Regions from separate parts of the Homo sapiens genome. Here region 2 is linked to region 1. The links come from fine-mapping of genetic effects on gene expression. Tissue or cell type: nasal epithelium. Region 1 holds a variant in brackets; the other region holds the start of a gene. All regions are shown on one strand. Distances are between the middles of the regions.

Region 1 (2,683 bases):
ATTCTGCATGTTTTGCCTCACTCTGCACCAGTCTCACATGTAGCCAAACTGGGCCTGAGACAGGTGTCAAGGGCAAGCCCATTAGCCCATTGCCTGCTCTTGCCGCCATGTATGCATTTTCTGCTGGCCGGCTGCTTGGAGGGTGGAGAGTCAAGGTTTCTTTGCTCAAGAAGACCTTGGCGCACCAGGTAAATGCCTGCCGGTGTTAGGCTGGAGGAAAGGGACATCAGAAACAGGCTGCTGAGTGGAAGCCAGTCAGAAGTTTTATGAAAACAGCAGCAGCTTGAGACAGCCCATGCTCACAAGAGGGGACCTGTCAGTTAAGCCCTTTCCCCTGAAAGAAGAATGACATTAAACCAGGCCTTGTGGTGCACGCCTGGTGCATGCCTGTAGTCCCAGCTACGTGGGAGGCCGAGGCAAGAGGATCGCTTGAGCCCCGGAGGCTGAGCTTAGAGTTTGGGAAAATCACTTCATAACCTTTCACAAGATCTGAAAGAAATAAGCTTCACATTCTTTCCACACTATGTTTACTTTCTCAACTTTACAAGTTCTTTTTTGTTGTGTTTGTGTGTGATGTTTGTTTTATATTTGAAGGAATATCTTTATCATTTGTTCTCTTATTTAGGATGAATAAATTTAAACATGGCTGTCATTCAGAAACAGAAAAGATTTATAGAAAAATACAGAGACATTGTTCTTTTCTCTGTAAGGTCTGTAAGCTGCTCACAGACATGCCTGGGGTTGAAGAGGGGTTAGTGTTGGATGCTGGCAGAGTATAGATTGCATTGAACTGTATTTAATCTTCTGATTTCAAGCACTGAGATAAATTGAGGTCAGGGAACCTCTGAGACAGAAGTAGGCTCTTTTATCTGGGTCGTTTTAAATGAGATGCTGTTTTTAGATTATACGTAACTGAAAAAAAGAGGCTCGTCTTACTTCCATGTTTTTGTCCCTTCTACAGGTCAGCTCAAGTAATGTCGTCTTGAAGACGGGATTTGATTTTCTGGACAATTGGTAAAATGTATTAGAAAAATACAATGAAGAACCCTAAAATGTTTTCCAAAGTGGTGTGGTGGAGGAGGATAAAAAGGGCCACCTTTTCCTATGTATTTTACTGGTTTCTTGACACTCTTTTCTTAATCATTTGGAAACTGGTCAATA[T/C]TGCCAGATTTTTTTCTTTTTTGGTAGAACCAGATATATATGCTATTTTCAGTGATTTGATAACAGAAGTTTTCCATTTGGAATTTTTAAGGTCTGTTAATAATTCAGGAGATCTTGTAAATAAAACTTCTGTTCCCAGCTCCACCCAACTTTCCCCCTCCTCAAAGGATGTGTTTCAACCATGTCACAAAAATCATATAAGTGATTTCCATCTCCTTCTCCATTATTCCCCCTCCCCCCTCCGCTTTTTACCGTATGGGTTCCTTTTGGTGGGTGATTGAGGGTGATGTTATCAGCCATGACATCAGCATGCTGGCTGTGACCCCGGAAAGACTGGCCCCCAGCGACGTTCTCAGCCAGCGCTCGCAGCTGTCCGGGGCTTCTCTGGCAGAAGCCATGTCTCTCACATCATGTGCCAGCCTCCACCCTCACGCCATTTCCAGGGAACAGACTGCGGGTATGTAGCAGTGTAGTCTTTAACCTGCTCTGATACATATTCAGAGTATGGATTGTTGTTTAAAAAGAGTTGCATGTTTAAAGAGTTTTGTACTAGCTTTTCATTATTTTGTATCTAGATTATCAACAATGGGGCTACCACTTTCCTTGGTTTTATATCCATTTCCTCTTGGAAGTTCTTGTTGCTTATGTGACCTGTTGGTTGTTCCCCGGACTGGGCACCTACAGGAGTCAGGGCAGACGGCAGATGTGGCTGGAGGTCAGGGCTCTTCTGCTTAGTTGTGTTAGAGTCTTCCAGCATGGGACTGATGGGAGCAGTGGGCATTCTTTATCCCAAGGGCTAGCCAGGTTGCGTCATGACGGACCTTCCCCAGCCCTGACCACCACCAGAAGTGGAAGAGTGGAGTTTGCGGTCAACTCAGCAGTGCCCATGGAGACCTGCGTGGTGTCAGAGCAGCAGTATCTCTTGGAGCTGGTGCAGACACCAAGGCTGCCCAGTGGTACAACGTGGTCCACCTCCCCTAGGGAAGCTGCTGCACTCAGAGGCTGTCCTGCCCAGTGGCCCCTGAGCCGTGTGAGCCTGCAGGAGGCGTCTGAGCAGAGCCTCAAGCCCGGTATGGCGCCATCTCCATGTTGCCATCACTGCGTTCTCACCTGAAGCCTTAATCTTTGCGACACCTGCCAGTGAGCGCTCGGTTTCAATACCAAAGTGTGTCTTCTTCTTTTTTTTTTTTTTTTAAATGCCTGTTTCATAGGACCTTCTGAAATGATTTCCAGAATATTTTATCTGGCTCCAAAATAAAGCACATAGCAACTCACCTCAACCCCTCATCATCTCCAGGAAAGTTTCTGCCAAAGCTGTGGCATAGCCAACTTTTGATTTGGTTCTTGCCAATTGTTTTATGTCCCTAAACCTCATTTGGATCCTTGGGGTATAGTTTTATCTTTCTGCTTCAGTGATTTACTGTAACTTTTCAAATATTGGTTCTTTCTGTACCATTTAAGTATAGTTGATATATGTGAGGCAAAAAAAGGTTTCAGCATGGTGGTGAGGGAAAAAGGAGCT
Region 2 (2,683 bases), 29 kb before region 1:
AAAATATTCTGAGGATTTCTGGGCCGGAAGATGAGGCCATCTCACATTTAAAATAGGACTTTGCAAGTTATTTCTACTTTTGTGTTCAGAACTATCCAGGCAAAGACCCTGGATAACAGCTGAAATGCTGGTTTTTGTTTTTGTTTTTTTATTTTACGAGTGGACACAATTCTCACCTGAGTCCTGTTAGTCTTGTTAAAATCAGTCAGATGGAGAGAGGGGCTTGGGGGAAGTGGGGGCTCGCTATAATTTTAATTTTGTGGTCTGTCTGGGACACACCTCAAAATTACAAACCCTGGCCCCCTACCTGTTGGGATGTCGCCTCTGAGTCTGAAAACTTTCTGCTCCTCTTTGGTTTGTTTGCAAACGTCGAACTGCCAAGAGTTCTGAGCTCCTTGGGTTGGGGAAAGGCACCTGGGCCACCGGGTACTTCATGCACCCACCTGGCCCCGAGGGGCGGCGGGAGCTGACTTTCCTTGAGCACCAGATGCCCCGAACCGGTCCAGCCTTCCAGGTCGCCCTCCAGCCTCCGGGCTGCCCTGCGCCCCCGGCTATCTGCAGCTCACCGCGCCAGGCCCCGGGCCCAGCGTCCTGGACGGGCCCAGAGAAAGCAGAGAAGGTGTGGCTCGTCCCAGAAAGGGACAGAAGGAAAGGAGTAAAAACAGAAGCCAGGCAGCCAGCGGCTTGGCCTGAAATGCTGGGGCTTTCTTAGGCTCACTGGAGGTTGAAAAAAGTTTCCTTTGTCAAGCAGTGGCCACGTGGCGCTATGGCGGTCACTACCGGGAATTAACCACGGCCACCCTCTCAGAGCGCCGGGCGCGGACTCAGGGACACGCCGGCTACCACCTGAGCCGGGTAAGGGGAGCCCGAAACCTGCGGGCACCGCGGTAATCCACTATGGAGGCGTAAAGGGGGACTCGTGGGGTCCGCGAGGGGGTGGCGGGGGGGGGCCCGGAGGGAGGAGCTCCCGGGGAGGGGGCCACGGAGGGCCGGGGTCCCGGGGCTTGGGGAGCTGGGTTGGCTTGGAGACCCGGGTACGCGGCGGTGCAGGGCGGGGTTCCCGGAGGGGGCGGGGCTCCGGGTGGCGCGGGGCGGGGCGAGGGCGGGCACAGCGAGGGGCGGGGCGCGGGCCGGGAGCGGCGGGCAGGCCGGGCATGGCGTCCATGGCGGCGGCGATCGCGGCTTCGCGCTCGGCGGTCATGAGCGGGAACCGGCCTCTGGACGACCGGGAGCGAAAGCGCTTCACTTACTTCTCGTCGCTGAGCCCCATGGCCAGGAAGATCATGCAGGACAAGGAGAAGATCCGCGAGAAGTACGGGCCCGAGTGGGCGCGGCTGCCGCCCGCGCAGCAGGACGAGATCATCGACCGGTGCCTGGTGGGGCCGCGCGCCCCGGCGCCCCGAGACCCCGGGGACTCGGAGGAGCTCACGCGCTTCCCCGGCTTGCGCGGGCCCACGGGCCAGAAGGTGGTGCGCTTCGGGGACGAGGTAGGTGCGGGCCTGGCCGCGGACCCTCTTCCCCTCCCGGCGCCCCGAGGCGCCCCGGCCCGGTGGGCACCTGCCGGCGTGAGGCCGCCCCAGCTGGTAGGGGCTGGAAAAGAAAAGGCAGGAATGGCAGTGGGTGGGAGGGGAGCCCCAGAGCCGAAGTTCGGGGGGTGGGGGCTCCGCTGGGGGAGTTGGTTAAGAGATCGCCGAGAGGTGGGTCGTTAAAGAACCTCCATCTAGACCTGATCCGCCGGCTCGCACGGACTCCAGAGACTTCTCCCGGAGCTGTCGTAAGCGAGGCTGACCAAAGTGGAAACAACAAGCAATTTTAAACCAGACAAGCCTGGGTTTTAATCCAGCTCTGCTACTTACTACCTGTATGGCGGTGGGTCAATTAACTTCTTAGAGCCTCAGTTTCCACTGTGTAAAACGGGGGTAATAACGCCACCCCGTGCCTGCCCGTGAAGGGACTGAGCAAATGATATATACTAACATGAATACTTGTGATGAGATGTATGGGGAAAGTAAAATTGCCAAGCCAGGTAACAAGGAAGAAAAGGTGTCTTCCAAGATAAGGAGGGAAACCCATCCATCACCCTAAGATGTTTTCCAAGTGAGCACAATGCCCAGCGTATGTTTTAAGGGTGAGCATGGTGGCCCTGTTTTCCACCAAAAAACTAAGGGACGATAAGTTTAAATGAGCTCCAGTAAGTCTTGGCCACATAACAGGGCATGTTTAGGTCTCAGATCTAGACACTGTCCAGACTGCTAGAGGGACAGTCATTTGTGAAGGTAGAAACGCTGAATCTGTTCCAGAAAAAGCTCAGGGATGACCCACACTTAGTCACAAACGCCTGAATCTTCTGTAGGGTTCAGAAACTTGGTCTTCTTTTTCTTAGAAATGTGTTTAACCGAAGCCTGTTTGGTGCCATTAGAATTTGCACTGTGACTCTTTGGCGTTTCAAACTCAACTTTTGCCGTGAGGAGCAAAGTCAAGCTGAGCAAAGAGTGTAGGAATGAAATCGCTCGCTGTTAAGGCTGTTTCTTGGGCTAGAGGAAGGAGAAGCTGGGAGAGATTTTTTCCGAGGAAGTTGTGGATTGTGGATGGAATTCAAGTTAAGGAGGTTTAGATCAGATTTTCAGGCTTGGGTGTGCTGAGACATTTATTAATACGAAGTGTTCATGGTCATAAACCCACT

The links. PIP is the estimated chance that this variant, and not a neighbour inherited with it, causes the effect.
Region 2: C1orf198 starts here. The variant in region 1 is fine-mapped to the expression of C1orf198 in nasal epithelium (TOPMed, PIP above 0.99).

Annotation. Positions count from the first base shown.
Region 1 is chr1:230,838,187-230,840,869 of GRCh38, reverse strand. C1orf198 (chromosome 1 open reading frame 198) reads left to right here. Exons shown (of 4, transcript NM_032800.3): 4 at 962-2,683. The coding sequence ends at 1,018. Among named protein-coding and RNA genes, the nearest start is that of C1orf198, 29 kb to the left of the region's middle. The variant T/C (reference allele first, on the strand shown) is at 1,162.
Region 2 is chr1:230,866,984-230,869,666 of GRCh38, reverse strand. It overlaps C1orf198 (chromosome 1 open reading frame 198), which reads left to right and starts at 1,146. Exons shown (of 4, transcript NM_032800.3): 1 at 1,146-1,487. The coding sequence starts at 1,155. RefSeq lists an enhancer at 583-1,174 and a silencer at 998-1,217.